3 separate regions of the Homo sapiens genome follow, and regions 1 and 3 are each linked to region 2. Evidence: fine-mapped expression QTL. A gene starts in region 2. Each other region holds a variant in brackets. All regions are shown on one strand. Distances are from middle to middle.

Evidence for each region. PIP is the estimated chance that this variant, and not a neighbour inherited with it, causes the effect.
Region 1: its variant is fine-mapped to the expression of CSGALNACT2 in skeletal muscle (GTEx, PIP 0.91).
Region 3: its variant is fine-mapped to the expression of CSGALNACT2 in whole blood (TOPMed, PIP above 0.99).

What each region holds. Positions count from the first base shown.
Region 1 is chr10:43,259,929-43,266,233 of GRCh38, reverse strand. All of the region lies in intron 1 of RASGEF1A (RasGEF domain family member 1A), which reads left to right. Among named protein-coding and RNA genes, the nearest start is that of RASGEF1A, 4.0 kb to the left of the region's middle. RefSeq lists enhancers at 1-539, 6,084-6,305. The variant G/A (reference allele first, on the strand shown) is at 2,900.
Region 2 is chr10:43,135,207-43,141,511 of GRCh38, reverse strand. It overlaps CSGALNACT2 (chondroitin sulfate N-acetylgalactosaminyltransferase 2), which reads right to left and starts at 3,067. Exons shown (of 8, transcript NM_018590.5): 1 at 2,945-3,067. CSGALNACT2-DT (CSGALNACT2 divergent transcript) reads left to right here and starts at 3,119. Exons shown (of 1, transcript NR_186456.1): 1 at 3,119-4,688. RefSeq lists silencers at 2,531-2,600, 2,711-3,210, 3,381-3,440, 3,571-3,770.
Region 3 is chr10:43,052,701-43,058,316 of GRCh38, reverse strand. No RefSeq gene overlaps it. Among named protein-coding and RNA genes, the nearest start is that of RET, 22 kb to the left of the region's middle. RefSeq lists an enhancer at 1-1,875. The variant G/A (reference allele first, on the strand shown) is at 2,539.

The DNA of each region.
Region 1 (6,305 bases), 120 kb before region 2:
GGAACGGGGCAGGTGCAGCTGGTTCTGGTCCGAGGGTCGGTGAGTGAGAGGTGGGGGCGGGAGTCCCCTGCTGTGTGTGGAGGGACGCGCTGGCAGGTTCCTGTGCCCTGCATTTCTGGCTGCCTCTGGGTGCTGGACCTGGTGGATATTTACAGAGAGGCCGCTGCCTGCCTCTTGGGAGCCACCTGGGGGCAGAGACCTGGTGGTGGCCGGGGCTCCCTCCCTCCCTGCTCAGAGCAGTGAGCTTCTCCCTGGTTCACCCTCCCCACCACTGCCACTCTTCTCCCACTGTCCTGCGCAGGAAGGGCCCCGATGGCCGTCGGCCGCAGGATCCTGAAACACAGGAGTCAGGCTGGGTGCAGGGGAGCCTCCCAGAGGCCTTGGTTCCCTCTGTCCCCCCAGGGTTCTCCCGCCCCCTCCGGATGCAGTCTTGCCAGCCCAGCCTGTCCACCTCGGTGCCCTGGACTCTAAGCGGCTCTAGGGGGCCTCCAGCCGAAAGGCTACAGGTCTTGATTCGTGAACCACGGGCAGGCTGCAGGCTTCTGAGACTCAGTTTCCCCATCTGTAGACTGACACGGTTTTGATGACCTCTGAGGACATTTCCACCCTGATGTCCAGTGACACTTTGCTTTGGAACCTCAGGACCCCAGCCCAGGAAGGGGAGATCCGGAGCAGGGGGACATGGAGGACCTTGGCTGGATGGCCAGGGACACGTGGGTGGGTTCTCTGCCCCTCCAGCCAGTGTGTGTCCTTAGGGCTGTGGGTGGTAGTGACCCAGCGAGGCGGGTGCAGCAGGCCCACACTCCCTGCTCCTGAGAAGGGCATGAGCTGTGTGGATCCCCCAGGCTCTCTAGTGAAGTAGAGAAGCTGTGTCCTCCTGCACATGCCCCTGGGTTTGTGAACCAAGCAGGTATCCCAGGTGTGCCTTGGCCTGAAGGCCAGCCAGTGAGTTTGTTTTTCTCTGGGAGGCATCTTCGAGCTGCCAGCCGGATGGCTCCCTTCCACCTGGCAAATCGTGGAAATGGAACAGTTCACACAGAGCAGAGGGGTTTTTTGGTGTAACTTAGCAACTGCAGGCAGGGGAGGAGGAGGAGGAGGGAGAAATGGCATTTGTGCTGGACAGTGGCTGCGGTGGGGAGAGCCACGCACACAGTGGCCCCCAGCGGTGGGAGGGGCCAGCCAGGGAGGAGAGCGAGTGGGCACTGGGACACAGTGTGGCCAGGAGCCCCTGAGCACGCCGGTCCCCACCTGTAGAATGATGCCAGGGGCAGGATGGGACAGCTTTGGTTGGCCTTTGGTTTTTGGCAATAGAACCGTGGGTTTCACAGAAGCCCTATTTGTCAAATAGGTCAAGTGAAGGTGCTGTGCCAAGGCAGGGATGGGGGCAGGGGGTTTGGCCCCCCCACTGTCCTCAGGAGAGGGGCTGGTGGAGGGATGCTCTTCTCTGCATGGCCCACCCCAGGGGAGGGGCGCTGGGCTGCTGGGGGTAGGTGCCAGGGGCATAGCAGATAGCAGATGGGGAGGAGACTCAAGGCATTCTCCCCCACCCCTCCCTGCTGCCCCTTGACGGACCCTCCCTCCCCTTCCCCCTTTTTCTCCTGAGGCCATCTGCTTGGGTCCGGCACTCTGGCTGCTTTTCTGTTGGAGCTTCCAATCTGCCTCCTGTAACTCCCACCCACTCCAGCCTGCCTCCCGGCTCCTCTGCCCTCCCCTGCCCACTCCCTGCTGGGGAGGATGAGTGTTTACCTAGCAAGGGTGTGATGTGCGGAGGGAGGGGACTGAAGTGGCACTGGTGGGCTGACAGCCATAGAGGAGGGCCTCTGATACCCACTGGTGGATTGCTGGGGGTGTCAGAGGCCCTCCCCTATGGCTGTCAGCCTGACCTGCGGGGGTCCAGAGAGGGCTCACTGCCCACTTTTTGGGTGTATCCCTGTCGCCACTTTTTGGGCACAGAGCCTGGGGCTGTGGGTATGTGAGAGTGGGCTCTGGGCCGGCCCAGAGTGGCGAGCTGCCAGGAACCCATGCAGAATGTCCCTGCGCGCTGGGACACCAGGAATTCCCCAGCTAGCAGCCCGGGAGCAGGGTTTGGGAAGGTCAGCTGGTATGGCCAGCAGTGGCTTGGCGGGCACTGTGTGAAGGGAAGCCCGAAAGCCCCTCGGGGTCCTGGCCTGCTCAGAGTGGGAGAGGGGCTCTGGCCTCAGGGCTCACCACCTGGGACAGGCTGGTAGAGGCTGCTCCAGGCACCATGACAGAGGGCTGTGAGGGGTGACCGGCCAGGAGTGGACAGGTGTGAGGACTCAAGCGGGGCCTGTGCTGTGATGGACGGGGTGGGGGTGTGACTGCTGCTGTGGCCACCCCTGCCCGGTGGACCATGGAGAGGGAAGCCAGGCAGGGAGAGTAGTCCGGTTGTCCCGGCTCTGCTGCAGCACCTCCCAGGAAGCACATGGGTGCCTTTGGGCACAACTCAGGACGACACCCAGTGATCCTGTTCTGGGAAGCTTCTCCCCACCTGTGGTTGCCCGCCCTGCCCTGGGCACTGCCCGGGCTGGGGTAGGGGCTGAGCTGCCGGCCTGTGCTGCCCAGGGCAGCCAGCAGGGGCTCCGAGACCTGCTTGTCTCTTGTGAGCTGGCTGTGGGGTTCTTTGTGAATTCAGGGAGCAGAGGCCAGCACCAGCTTGAAGAAGAGAGGCCTGGGCTGGGACTCTAGACAGAACAGCCCAGGGTGGGCACTTCATACGTGGGATGCAAAGATGTGGCTGTCCGGTTGACAGGTGCTTTTCCTTTTTTAAAAACAACGAAACTTGCTCAGCCGTCCGCACCCTGGTCGCCTGTGCGGGCTGACTTTGAAGACATGTTCTCTGCTCACTCTGAATCCTCACTTCCCACTCACTCCCACCCAC[G/A]CCAATCTGCACACACCTCCTTCAGTCCAGGGATGTCTTCTTGAGAGGCCGTGGATGTCCACTGCCTTGTTCCCAGACACCCATTTCCTGGGCTTGGCCGGCCCCTGGTTCTCCTCCTCCCATCCTGGGACACTCAAAGTCCCTGTTCCTCAAGACCTGGGCTCAAACCCTCTACCCAGCCACAGCATCTGTTCCCTCCTCCGTGCTGATCCGGTTCCAGCTCTCATCAGCCCCCACCTGTCCTCTGGGTTCTGTCAGTGTGTGAGCCTGCTGGACGCCTCCCGGGTGACGATGCACATCATCACGCCCCTGAACCTTGCCTGCCCCAGGTTCCCCATCTGAGCAGGTAGGCAGCTGGCTCTCCCTCACCCCCTCTGCCAGCTTCCCTTTGCCTGGAGTTGTCAGCCAGTCTAGCACACCCCACTCTAGACCTCTCTTCTGCCCCTTCTGCCTCTCCCTGCTCACTGCCACCTCTGTGGGCCGGGCCACCATCCCCTGGCCAGGACATTTGCAGTGGCCTCCTTACCCAGCAGTCTGTTCCCCTACTCAGGGCATGGCTTCTGCTGGGTCTCCCTCCTGCCAGGAGGCTCCCAGCCTTCCTTGGGTGCCTTCCTGAACTTTCCTGCTGTGCAGGGGGCCCGGGGCTGCTCTGCAGCAGCCGCCTTGGGTGTACTTGTCTATGATCCCCTGGGGTCTAGTCTGCACCAGGCCTGTTGGAGCCCAGCCACGAGACAGTGGCTATGCTGGCAGATTCAGCGAACATCCGTGGGAGGTGCATGGAAGTGCCTGAGCCACCGTGCATGGTGTGGCAGAGGTGCCTGGCCTGGGCCACGTTGCTGCACCCACGCCAGGGAGAGGAGAGGAGAGGGAAGCAGACCTGAGAGCTCTGGGACAGTCTGGGGGGCTGGTGTCTGGGGTCCTGGACCAGGAAGGAATCCTGGGGGGTGGGGCTGGGAGGCCAGCACCCTGTTTGTTGTCACCACCACTTCTGTTTCTCCAAGTGTCACCCTCAGACTCTACCTTGAAGAGAGAGTTCTCCCTGGATCTGGTTGCCATGGCAACGCTGTTAACAAAGAGTAGCTTCCGTGGAGGAGGCTGGCGGGAGCTGGGAGAGGAGAGGGGGCGCGTTCTGATGGTTTATCAGCAGGGCTTGTTTCCCCACCCCCACCAAGGCTGCCCAAATCTGGTGGACCCTCCCCCACTCTCTCTGCCCATGGGGCTCTCCAGGTCTCTGGTACCCAGACCCGCCAAATGTGAATGTCAGGCAGCCTTGAGTGCATCCGGGTGTGTCCTGGACCCCAGCCACAGCTGGGGCACTGGGGCAGGCCTCCTCCTTGGGGCCTGGGGAGACATGCCCAGCCACAGCACCAGGTACTTCCCAGGATGAGGATCTGCACTTTGTCCCTGTACAGACGCAGACTCCAAGGTCCAGATTTCTCCTGCCTGGACTTCTCTGTAGGCTAGTTCTGTGCCCAGCTTTTTCTGGCCGGTGCTCTGAGCATGCCCTGTGAGCCCTGCTTCTCCCAGGGCTGTGGTCTGGATGAAGGTAATGTGCAGCCCCGAGCCAGGCTCTGGGTGAGAGCTGGGCAGCCCCGGCTTTGCTGGCTGAGGAGAGGAGGGTTGGCCCCAGTTGCTAGGACCCAAGCCTCTGCCCTCAGAGCTGGGGGAGGAAGGGTGGGCTGGAGGCAGGGTGAGTGGACCAGCTGGGAGGATGGGGCTTGGATGAGGTTGGGAGTTCTGGGGGTGCCCTGATGCTTTCATGAGTTAATTACTCAGAGCAGGCAGGGGGCTGCATCAATTATTCATTTTATTATTGCTGTTAGCAGTGGGTGGCTGGATGAGGAGTGGAGTCCCCCACTGGCGAGGCCAGGCCAGGTGAGCATTGGTGGCACCTGGGAGAGCCCAAGTCCTGCCCACACTGTCCATTGCAGGCAGGGCCCTTCCTGCTCAGCCCCGCTACGGGGACAGGGCCTTCTATGCCCCGTGCCCCTTCCTCCTCTGGCCTAGGTGTTTCTGGGAGCTGGGCTTACCTTGACCAAGCTGGAGTGAGTTAGACCTGCTGTGAGGTGACCTGCAGGTACCTGGGCCAGATCAACTGCCCTGCGGGGAGTGGTGGTGGTGGAGAGGGCTGATAGTAAACTGTGCTGGCAAGTATGGCCAGGGGTCCCAGCTGTTCTTCATGGAAAGGCCACGGCAGCCAGAACCACTTCCCAGAGGGGGCGGGGCCGAGGGGGAGGGCGCTCCCACATGGGTGGGGCCTGGAGGGGAGACCCACAGCTGCGGTCACCAGGCACCCACCAAGCCTGGTGGGTGCGCACAGGCTGAGCAGTCAGTGCTGGCTCGGAGATGCCCGCACAAATGTCAAAGAAGCTGCTATTCGGGCCAAGTGTTCCGACTACAGTGCAATTAAGAGAGAAAGTGATAACAAAATAGATAACTCTAAAAGAGTTGTATATTTAGAAAATTTGAAACACATGTTTGAATGATGGGTCAAAGAAACAATGGAATAGAAAGTTTGGGGTTAAATGATAAAAATAGAATGCTGAGCGCTGTGGATCACGGCCGTCGAGGGCTACATGCCCTGCTGCCTGCTGACGTCTGGAGAGCCCAGTTGTACAGGAGAAGTCCACACCCAGGTGCCTTCCTTGGCTCCCGCAGTGGGAAAGGTGGGAGGGGGCGGGACAGTGGCCAGGCCTCCTATGGGCACGGGAGTCTGCCTGCTGGGGTCCTGAGAGGGGGGCGGACCCTAGCTTCTCCGTGGGGTCTGGGTCTGGGGAGCCACTTGGCCCTGCCCGTGGGGACCAGGGTTCCACAGTGGCTCTCTGGCCTGCCATAGCACCCAGGGTTGGACTCCAGGGCAGCACAGTGTTCTCAGCCCTGGGCAGGACGCCAGATGCATCCGGTGGTGCACCGAGTGCAGAGCTGTCTTATGTGAGGCAACCGGGGACGCTGTCAGGGGAAGACACAGGAGGGGATCTCCAGGACAGCACCAGTGCCAGGCAGGGCCCAGGTTGCAGAGTGGAGAGGAAGGAGCAGCAGGTGTGGGGAGGCTGGTGCCCTCGGTCCACCCTGCCGGTGCCCAGGCCTGGGTGTGGTGTACAGTCATGTGCCTGGGGGCTCTGGGTGTACACATTCATTCTGGGTGTGTGCATTTATACCCAGATGCTGGGAGGGCCCCTGACCAGCCTACTGTCCAAGGGCTCTGCTGGGCGTTTCACTGACATGTGACTTAATGTGCCTCTTTTTGATGCCAGCATCATTACACTGATTTTGCCAGTGAGCCTCTGGGGTCTGCAGAGAGGGGCAGAGGCAGAGGTTGAGGCCAGGTCGCTCCCGTGCTCTAGGGAGCATGTTAGCAGGTGGTGTGGTTCTCTGGTGCCTCCCTTCATCTCTCCGAGCCTTCCTG
Region 2 (6,305 bases):
CAGGTGCGGTGGCTCACGCCTGTAATCCCAACACTTTGGGAGGCTGAGGCAGGTGGATCATGAGGTCAGGAGATCAAGACTATCCTGGCTAACATGGTGAAACCCGTCTCTACTAAAAATACAAAAATTAGCCGGGCATGGTGGCGGGCGCCTGTAGTCCCAGCTACTCGGGAGGCTGAGGCAGGAGAATGGCGTGAACCTGGGAGGTGGAGCTCGCAGTAAGCCGAGATGGCGCCACTGCACTCCAGCCTGGGCAACAGAGCCAGACTCCGTCTCAAAAAAAAAAAAAATTATTTGTAGAGACAGGGTCTCATTATGTTGCCTAGGCTGCTCTCAAACTCCTGGAATCCAGAGATCCTCCTGCCTCGGCCTTCCAAAGTGTTGGAATTACAGGCATGAGCCACCACACCTGGCCCTTTCCTACTTTCCATGTTTAAATATTCAAGAATCAATTGCTTTTTTTCATGGCAGCCTGTATGTGTTCAGTAGGCATAATACCTTAACAAATTTGAAGATACTAATACTTACTTTAAAGCTTTCTTTTGTCTTACATTAGCTCCACTGCTTCAGTGCCTAGTTCTGTATTTGTTTGGTCTGAAGCTTCTCTTAGATGCTACCGATTTCCCACAAATGTTTAGTGATTTTTGTTGTGTGTTCACATTATAAATGTGCTAGTAGTATCTCAGTCCATATGAAAATCACTGTACTCCTGCTGTGAATTCACATTTGTAACTAGCCCTATAATTCAATTTTACACTTATACCTAGTGCTTGTGTAGCATGACAATAACAATGTAAGTTCTTTGACTTGCAGTCCCGTGATTCTTCAATCCACTTTCAGTCATATCCTTTTGGTATTTCATTTCCTCTAAAAAACCACTAACTTGAGTAATACAGTTCTTAAGTAAATGTTATGCTAAACTTCAGAGTCAGATCCTCACCAGCTCTAACAGACTTGTCTAACAGTTAAACAAACAATGACAGTCCGACAGAAGACAGTCATAAATGTGCAATTCAAAGGGTAAATAATAACATGGTAATGAATGAATCACTTACGTCTTGAACTCATAATAGTTATGCTTTTTTAAAACCAACCTTGAATGTTATATTAGTTAAAATAACAAATTCTATTACATTAAAAAAAAGATGACTCCATGTTGGTTAAATTTTCTGCCTTTGGTTGGTAATGGTATGGTTGGTAATGACTCCATGTTGGTAATTTTCTGCTTATGCCATGACTCAGTCATTCTATAGCTGACAGAAATGCATACAGATGCTCACCAAGACATTTAATTTACAAGAATGTCCACAGTACTCTTTTTTTTTTCTTTTCTTTTTGAGACCGAGTCAGGCTCTGTCGTCCAGGCTGGAGTGCAGTGGCACGATCTCGGCTCACTGCAACCTCCACCTCCCGCCTCAGCCTCCCAAGTAGCTGGGCTTACAGGCGCCCGCCACCACGCCTGGCTAATTTTTGTATTTTTAGTAGAGATGCGGTTTCACCATGTTTGCCAGGCTGGTCTCGAACTCCTGACCAAGTGATCCACCTGCCTCGGCCTCCCCAAGCGCTGGGATAAAAGGCCTGAGCCACCACGCCAGGCCCACAGTATTCTTAATATCCAAAACACATCATATACAAAAATTGGGAACATAAATGTCCATCAACTGAAGAGTAGTCACATATTATTCAATAGACTATTACACAGTAATAATACAATACCATGAAATAGCATGGGTGTGTCCCACAAACAATATGCTGAGAATACTACGTGATTCCATTAACATGAAGCTCAAAACAGAGAAAACTAAAAGCAGATAAGAGAAGTTAGAATACAGATGGGAAAACAAGGATATAACTGACTTGGAAGAAGCACAGGAAAATAGGATGATGGAAATGTTCTATGGTTATAATTTGATATATCTGGTGGTTCCACAGGGTAATAAGTATGTAAAAATTCATTGAGCTGTACAATTAAGATTCGTGCTCTTATTGATTTCATATGTATTTTATGCCTCGACAAAAACAAAGAGAAAAATGCAGCTTCTAAACTGGTTGGAACTGTGTTTATTTAGGCCAAAATCCTCTGAGCCACAAATACTGGAAATCCATCTTTTTTCATTCTTTTAGTTACATGACAACTTTAAACAAATGGTACAAGAACAATAATACAAAATGAACGCTAACACTCAGTCCTAAAATACTTGGCTTCTTACTTCCAAGATCGAAGCTACTATTTTAATACAACATTCAAAAAACAACATTAATTACCAGACATGAAGGCCCTGCTCCCGCGAGCCTTGAATGACGGTGAAACGTCACGACATCCCATATCTATCTCAAAAGCACGCTAGAAAATACCTCCAAGTTTAACAAGCCAAGGACTCAGGAAGAGAAGCTTCAGATGTATAATCAAACTATCATACCGCCAATACCATCATCACAAACAGAAGTATCACTGTCGTGCTTCCTGCGTTGCTCAAGGGTAGAGTCATTTTTAAGGTGCATTCTCCGACAACGCCAGAGGCTCCCCATCTCCTCCGCCCCACTGAGCCCTCCACGACAGAGCATCTTTACCGGCGCTCGCTCTGCCATCTACAGATAAAGAGGGGCTGAGGGCAGAACTATTTTAACGCGATGACGAGGTCACCACTGATTAAAAAGTTTATCCACTGAGAGGAGCAGAGATGGTGATGAATAGGTAAAAACAAAACGAAACAAAACAAAACCCAACACTGACAAGCGAACCAATCGTCTCTGGCCGCGCTTTCCCTAAAACCGGTGCCGACTCCGGCAGGCTCATCCCTGAGAGACAGGGCCCCCCGCAGGACCGGTCCGCTAGGCGACCCCACCCGACCACACAGGAGCCCGCAGCCCCGGCGCCCGCACCGCCCGGGCCGGAGCCGGCGGGAGTCGCGGACCGGCGGGCGAGGCCGGGCCAGGTACTCACCGCGCTCGCCCGCTCTGCGCTCCACCGCCTCCTGCGCCGCGGGGACACCCGGGCGGCGCCTCACGCCTTGGGCCCGCCGCCGCCTCAGCCACCCACCCCCGGGCGCGCCGCCGCGCCTGAGAGGCCACTTCCGGCGCGCGCGAGGAAATGAAGCCGCCGCGCGCCCGCGGCCCCGCCCAGGAAGCTCCGCCACTGGCAGCTGGGTACCGATTCATCACCGACGTGTTTAAAGTATCCGTGTGTGTGCCTCCAAAAACCGTTTGTGGAGACAGCAGAGTGCCCGAGGCAGGAAACCGCTCCGGCCTGGAGGCGCCCCTGCCCGGACTCGTGGACTGCAGCGCTGTCCCGCTCGGAAGCCGATCCTGGGAGTCCGAGCGGGGCCGCGGGGCCTGCGTGGCAGCCGAGTCGAGGGCTTCGGGCCGCGGGGCTGTGGAGCGCCCCTTGGCGCTGGGCCGCCGGCAGCCGTGAGCGCATCACTGCATTTCCCTGGAGGAATTCCTCATCTGTTGAATGAGGGAGTTGAGGCGGACACGCTGGGAAATGGCTTCGAGCTCACACACTGATTTTCGTGAGTGGAAAGAGAAGCCCTTTCTTAGGCGTCTTCCATACCACTGCATGTTCCAGGGTCCTCCCTGGGCTCTCTGTCTCCCACGCCACCGCGAGCACGGCCTAAGCGGGCGAGCGAAGGCGCGACGGCGCCGAGAGCCGGCTGTGGTGGGTGCCGGGCGCGTCACCGCGGGCTGGCGGGGGAGGGGACGCTGGGAAGCTCTCCAGAAAGAGGAGCCGCCACCGAGCAAATTCCCATCTGCCACGCACCGCAGAGCCTCGCCCTCCGCCGCCAGCATTTTCTTTCTTTGTTCTCCTAGCCCTACAAACGCTGGGTTTCCTTTCTCATTCGTGGACTTTTTTCCCTGGATCCTTCTTACTGCTCCTACCCTGTGGCCGCACGTCTGGCAGATGCGCGGCGGGCGCTGCCTGAACCCCCGAATCCTCACAAGCCTCTGTGCAGCGGCCACGGCCCTCAGCTAGCGGCGGGGAGACTGAAGCCGCAGGGTCAGGGTTAGTTGCCACATGTTTTAAATTCCTATCCAAACTTCCATTATAATTGTTTTTATTTATTTATTCATCTATTTTTTGAGACAGGGTCCCGCTCTGTCGCCCAGGCTGGAGTGCAGTGGAGCGATCACGGTTCACTGCAGCCTCCCCACCTCCGACTCCAGCGATCCTCTCGCCTCAGCCTCCCGAGTAGCTGGGACCACAGGTGCATGCCACCATGCCCGGCTAATTGTTAATATTTTTTTTGGTAGAGATGGGGCCTCCCTCTGTTGCCTAGGCTGGCCTTGAACTCCTGGGCTCAAGCGATCTTCCAGCTTCGGCCTCCCAAAGTGCTGGCATTACAGGCGTGAGTCACCCCGCCTGGCAAGAATTGTTGTTTTGAAACTAACTGAGGTTCTCCCATCAATGGATTTAAATTGTTACTTTTTAATGATTTTTTTTTAAGTAGCCAAATACTAAATGTATGTAATTTGAATGTGGAGAGAAGATAATGCATGATTCAAATTATGTGGCTGATCATGGGTGATACACTGGGATATAGTTGTAAAATAAGTAGTTCTCCTAGGGAAAATATTAAAGTACAACTGTGTTGGGTTTAATATCAGAAAAATGTAATTAAAAACATTTCCTGCCAATAATTTCCAATCTGATACTTAAACAAAACAAAACAATAAAAGTTTCCCATCTCTTTCGGGCCTTTTAAATTTCTACCAAAAGTAAGTGATGCTGGCTGATTCCCCTGCTATAGCAAGTTGTGAATAAATAGCCTTTGCTGGTTTCCACAGTTTTCCTGGTGATCCCATGGTAAGTCTGTACTGCTTGTCCCTGAGGTCCCCAGGCTTCCACCCATTGTGCCACCCAGAGGCCCCTCATGCCTCCATGTTCTCGGCCTATCAGGTGCGCCGATGTGGTCAGCACTAGGGCTCACCTCACTCTGCGTGGAGGTCTCTGGCTATTTATTCTCAGTTTGGTACTCTGGTTTTGTTATTGATTCTCATTTGTCTGGCATCTCTAGTGGAATCAGGCCATTCTTTTTATCCCTTTTCACTGTATTTTGTGTTAGTGTTTAGTGTTGTGCTGTCAAAAAGTGCTGCTTGTCATAAGAAGGAAAACCGTAGGAAAGGACACAGGCATGGGGCTCATAAGCCTCTTGTTTGAGCCAGCCTCGCAGCTCATGATTTAGCAGTTCTCATCACACCGGCCTCTACTTGGAGAAACTTTGCTGTGGGTTTCCAGTAAAACTGAATGAGGTTCTCCTTCCGTCTCGCTTTCATGTCCTGAGAGACACAAACATTCCATTTCTCGCCAGCCTCACCAGCCAGCATTCATGGTGTTGTCTAAGTTTAAATCTCCTCCTCCAGAAAAAACTCCTGCTTCTTACATATACTCTCTAACAATTCTAATCCTTACGCCCATCTCTGAAAAGCATTAACTTCACCAAGGTTGATTTGGTGAAGATCTTATTTGGAGAACATCTAACTTGAACAAAATTGCTCATTTGAGAGATGCCTTAGAAACGAAAGAGAATAAGATTTCTTAGGCCCAATGAGCAGCCTTTTTTGATTGGTAGTCAGAGGTCTCCAAATGATATTCTGATTCAAAAAGTGCTTCCCTGAAAGACTCTGGCTAAAGCTGATGAGCGATTTGGCAAACTTAAGCAGCAACAACCTAGACTCATTTTCCTAGTAAATCCTTCTGCTTATCATCCATTTGCTTCCCTAATACAGCTCTCCCTCTTCTCCCCCTTATCCTTCTGATCTCTTCCCTTCCACACATCTGTCCACACTTCTCTTCCTCTTGTCCAGATCCCTGCCCTTTCACAACAACCCTCCTATGACCCCAGGATGCCAGCTGCCTCTCTGAAGGCCTATTCCTCCATGAGCCCCATATACAGACAACTGTGGAATTTAAACCTTAGACCCAAGCTAAATTAATAACCATAATTAAGGATTTCCCCAAACCCAGGCAAGATCAGCAACTATGCATAAAATAATTAAGAATACTTTGGTCAGGCACTATGGCTCACACCTGTAATCCCATCATTTTGGAAGGTGAATCAGTGAGGACTGCCTGAGCCTACAAGTTAGACCAGCATGAGCAACATAGTGAGATCTCCATCTCTATGGAAAAAAAAACCCAGGCATGGTGGTGTGTGCCTGTAGTCCTAGCTACTCAAGAGGCTAGATGGGAGGATCACTTGCGCCCAGGAGGTTGAGGCTGCAGTGAGCCATGATTGCACCACGGGCACTCTAGCCTTGGTGGCAGAGCAAGACCCTATCGCAAAGCGGCGGGGGGAAGCATGTGA
Region 3 (5,616 bases), 83 kb after region 2:
GACCACAGGTTGGGCGGTGGGGGTGTGAGGGAAGAGGGCTGTTTTTGTACCTGAGAAGGTGATGGTGAGCAGGTTTTGGGTAGACCTGGAGGCTGGGGTTCACGGGTACAGCCCGGAAGGTGTATCCATCCTTGAGGTGGAGGGTGCAGAGGTGGGGCCTGGTGTCACGCGGAGTCTGTAGAGTGTGAATAGAGACGAGCACTGGGTCCCCCCACGGGAAGATGGGGGGAGGTGTGGGGGATGGAGAAGGAGGGAGGGGCCTGGCAGAGGGGTCCTGGAACTCGGGAGGATGGTGTTTCAAGAGGAGGGCTGAGCCACTGAGTCACCACTGTTGCCAAGCTCTGCCTCAGTTTAGCGAGGTGAGGTTAGTGGTCAGGTGTCACAAAGTCTCTGTGGAGGGCTTCAGTGGGGCAACCCCAGATGGGGCCACATCTCTGGAGCAGTTTTACCATCAAGAGGAGCAAACAAACAAGCAAAGCAGTCAAACACACTGTCTTAAGGACAGGGAAGTAACAGTATTTTTGGATACAGACGGGGAGGATCTGGCTAGAGAGGAAACCCGCATGAGGCAGGAGCAAGGGATGGTGGCTTGGATAGTCCCCAGGGAGGCAGGAGCAAGGGATGGCGGCTGGGACAGTCCCCAGGGAGGCAGAGGGAAATGACTGGGCTGGTGCTGGTTGGAAAATCAGAGCGTCTGGTCTTCAGGAAGTTCTAGAGGATGCAGGTGCCCCTGCAGCCTGCAATGGTCCCCTGCACACCCCGCTGCGACCTGGGGGCAGCATACGGGAGCCAGAGCTGAGCTGGGAGACTGCGCTTGGAATTTCCTGACCTGGGTGAGGTTCAGCTCCTAATCTCATATTGCATCTATCACATTATTTCATGTGGTCTGTGAGAAGCTGAAAGAGTGTGGGCTGAGAGGATTTGCAGAGGGGAGGAGAAGCCAACCCAGGACACTCTTCACTGACCCTCTGAGGTCTGGGTCGGGACCAACAATTTTGGTCACTGCCAGGGGTGCAGCCAGGTGGCAAGAGCTCTGGGCTGCAAGACCAGGCTCAGATCCAGGCAAGGGACAGCTTTTCTGAGCCTCAGTTTCCTCATCTGGAAAGTGGAGCAAGTGAGAGCCCAGCATCACAGGCTGCATGAGGCCACCATGGGCAGTGACTTCATCCAGATGAGGAGCAAGATGGGTGTGCACAGAGGGGCAACCAGGACCCACAATCACAGGTTGTACACAGAGATGGCAACCAGGACCCACAATCACAGGTTGTACACAGAGATGGCAACCAGGACCCACAGCCACTGGGTGTGCTCAGAGTGGGGCAACCAGGACCCACAGCCACTGGGTGTGCACAGAGTGGGGCAACCAGGACCCATGACCACTGAGTGTGCACAGAATGGGGCAACCAGGACACGTGACCACTGAGTGTGCACAGAGTGGGGCAACCAGGACCCATGGCCATCAGGTGTGCACGGAGTGGGGAACCAGGACCCACAGTCACCAGGTGTGCACAGAGGGGCAATGAGGACCCACATCAGGGGGTGTGCACGGAGAGGGCAACCAGGACCCACAGCTACCGGGTGTGCACAGAGGGGGTGACTAGAACCCACACCCACTGGGCTTGCACAGAGGGGGCAGCCAGGACTCACAACCACAGAGTGTGCACAGAGGGGCAACCAGGACCCACAGCCACCAGTTGTGCACAGAGGGGGCAGCCAGGAAGCATCCTACCCACCCTCTCGATTTCACCAGGAGGAACTGGGGCCCAGAGAAGGCAGTAAGTGGCTGTGGGCACCAGGCCCACTCTCTTCTCCACTGACCATGTCAGACCAGGCTGTTTCTGGGAAGCAGCAAGGGGTTTTCAGCCAGGACTTGGTATCCAGCCAGGAGTCTGGGTTTCAGCCAGGAGTTGGTATTTGTTAAAAGAGATGAAAAAGGTGAAGCTGTTATCAAGGGAAAGTATCTGGGATCTGAGTTCACTGCAGGGTCTCAGGAACTAGATACCATCAGCCAGGCCTGCATTGCGGATGTGAAGGGAAGCTGGGAGCTGTGTCTGTCACACATGGGAGCTCCCAAGCCCCCACCCCACTGCACTGCCCAGTGCTCCTGAGAGCCTGGAAGATGGAAACAGGTTGAACAATCCAGGAGGCACTGACCAGAGATGCCCTTGCTGTCAAAGCCTGGAGCTAGCAAACTGGCAGCCTCCAGCTTCCTCCAGCAACCTGGAGCTGGCAGTGGTGGCCATTTCGGCAGGGAGGTGGCTGGGGTTGGAAGCCCTGCATCCTGGTCTGCACAGGCTGTCAGGTTTGCTAAGTCCTGGAGCTCCCAGCTGCCCCCACAGATGAATTTCCCCTGCTGCTGCTTCATAATAGGTGGGACTCCATTTAATTGGACCCCTAGAGTAGGAGCGGGATAGAGACACTGGGATGGTCCCTCTGCTGAGAAAACATTTGGTGTATGCCACCAACCATTCCTCACTCAAACACATGTCACTCAAACATGGGCCATACGGATCTTCTTAATGGGATAAAGAAAATAGT[G/A]GCAAGCTCCATGAGGCTGTTTCCAACCGCCTTTCCCTTGAGATCTGCACTATTGAGGCTAAAAGTCTAAATATATTCCCAGCCTCTCTTGAACTAAGTGTGGTCAAATGACACAGTTCTGGTAAATGAGACCTAAGTGGCAGTCAGCTGGGATATTTTGAGAAGGTTTGTTTTCTTGTCAAAAGAGCCAAATGCAGCTCTTTTCTTTCCATTTCCTTTCTTCCTACATTGAAGATAGATGTGATGCCAGGCACTGGGGCAACCATATTGCAACCCTGAGGCAGAATGCATGAAAGATAGACAAAGCTCTGACGGGGTTGAACTGCTGAACCCAGGCCAGCAGCTGCCTACTGGCAGGCCTCTTGTAAATGGAGGCAAAACAAAACATTATTTGTTTAAGCTGCTATGTTTGGAACTGTTGCAGTTGAAAGCATTCCTAGCGAATACACACCACTATGGCAAACGATCAGGAATATCACACCTAAGAGTAAAACCCTGGCCTCATTCCTGTTACATTCTGAAAAAAGAGAAGGGTGTGCCCACTGTGACTTCTAGGAATAATATCACAAACAATCGTTTTGGAGAGTCTACTACATCCTAGCTACTGTCCTAGGCACTTGGCATATTTACTAATTTGACCTTTCCAACAACTGTATGGGGACATTTTACAGATGTTGAAACTGAGGCACAGAGAGGCACAGAGAGGTTGGGTAGGGGGGAAATTGCCATGTTCCAAGTTCCAAGTCAGTGAGCGGTGAGCCAGGGTGTGAATTCAGAAAGTCTGACTCCAGAATCCATCCTCCTGACCACGTGCGGATCCATCTATATGATCAGAAGTTGAGGAAGAGCAGTACAGCCCAGGTCAGGGACCTCTGGTCCTATGGCTGGTGCCACTACATCCTCTCCCCCTGTGGACCACTCAGGGGAAGCCAGTGGTGGGTAGGATCAGAGCTGGGGAGCTGGATGTTCCCAAGAGCCTGGGGATGTCCCCAAGAGCCTGCAGGGCCACTTCACAGAGAACCAAGATGGGCCAGGGCCCCACCTCTGCTCCAGGGCAGGTACAATAAACACTGCCAAGGTTTCCTCTTCCTTCTCTTCTTCCTCTGCTTCCAAGGCCGATTGATCCCACTTCTGGTGAGTACCTTTCTCTTTATTTTTAAAACTACTTTAGTATATTTCAACAGTGCTGGCCAGTTTTGTAGGCTAGAGAGCCGGCTGTCGTTTTTGGCCTATTGTCTTTTAACACTTTTAAAAAATATTACAGATAGAGGAACTATATGGCTGCTATAAAGTCTTCAAATAGTTCAGAAGTTTATGAAATAAAAACTATAATTTTCTGCTTGTATTACCAGCCTCCATACCTCTGCTCACTACCCTCTCTGAGCGATAACATTACTTGGGAGCTTGGACTTCGTCCTTCCAGAGTATTTCCTATACAAACACACTCATGTATATAAGATACATGCGCGCGCACACACACACACATTTTATTTTAAATGTATTTAAAAATCAGATTACATGTGCCACTCTATTAGTTGCTTCTTCTCCTTTAGTAATTCTTGAACTTGAACAAATCAGTCTTATTATTTTCAATGTACGCTGAGTGTCGTTTAGAAAGGGAGGGAGCTCAGTGTTTTTTTTTTTTTTTTAGCTGACCTTGATGGACACTCTGGTTGCTTCCACGGGTTGTTGTTATGCACTTGTGTGCTCCTCTTTGTCGAACAGATTCCTGCAAATGGTGTGTCTGTGTGCAGATGGGCACATGGCCACGTTTGACAAGGATGGCCAAATGCCCCTTAAACTGTTGCATCAGCTCTCTCCCCGAAGTGAGAATGAGAGCGCTCCATCCCCAGGCCTTCAGGAATTCTAGAGTAACGATGAGCACACCCAGCACTCACATCTTGGTTTCTAAATTCTGTCTCCACTAAAAGGAACCAGGGCTCCCTGGAGAAAAGTTTCCAGGGCTGGAGCAGAAAAAAAATGAGGTTAGAACATCTCACTGAAAGTAAGGAAGGACTCAGAGAACAAGGAAAGCATATTACAGGGCACAGGAACCAAGCAAAGGGGCTCCCATTGGCCCAGCTGGGACATTCTGGGCATCAGAATGAATGATAGGAATGAATTATGGCCCCTGAATAAAATAAGACTCCATGAGCTCATCATCCAATAACGATATGAAATAAAAAGATAAGGAAAAGCTTGTCCTTATAGTATAATAAAGCATCAGCTAGTAAAAGTAGGTGGAATTTAGAAAGATAATCATTTGACAATTAGAATAACTGATTCAGACAACAACCATCAGCAGATGCTAAATTTGAGGGTGAAAGTTTGTGCAGGAACACGGAATCACATAGACTCAAAGTATCTGCCCATAAAAGTCCTGGTTTGTTACAAAAGGAAAAATAATAACCTTTTAATTGAGAAGCCCAGTGAATACTGACTTCACCAAATAGTGAAAGTTGATATCATCATCAGTGATGGAATAAACTTCCACATTCATCCTGGTGTGGTGCGTCAAGGAGGGCATGGAAGTAGGTCTGCAGCATTCCTGCCAAAAATGCGTGACCTGAATCTAATCCTGAGGAGACAGTGGAAAAACCCAAATGGAGGCACAGTCTACAGCCTAAGTGGAAATCTCCCTTCCAAAATGTGAATGCTAGAGGAGAGGAAGGTGGAGGGTGTCCCAGTTTAAAGAGACCACTGGGACAGGATGATTGGATGCAAAGCGTGATCCTGGATGGAAAAAAATTATTGTCAAAGACAACATTGGGACAGCTGACAAAACTGGAATATGAATTTTGGTTAGATAACAGTATTGTATCAATGCTAACTTTCCTATTCAGTACTTGACAGATGTACCATGGCTAAGTAGGAACATGTCCTTGTCTACGGAAGATAAAGATTTAATATTTGGGAGCAAGGAGGCATGGTGAATAGAAGTAACATCGCCAAATGGTTCAAGAGAGAAATTGCATATACATGTGGAGAGAGTGGGGGAGGGACAGGGAAAAAAAAGAGAACACAGGAAGAAAAATGTGAACAGTGGTGAATCTGGGGAGATGAGGTATAGGAGTTCTT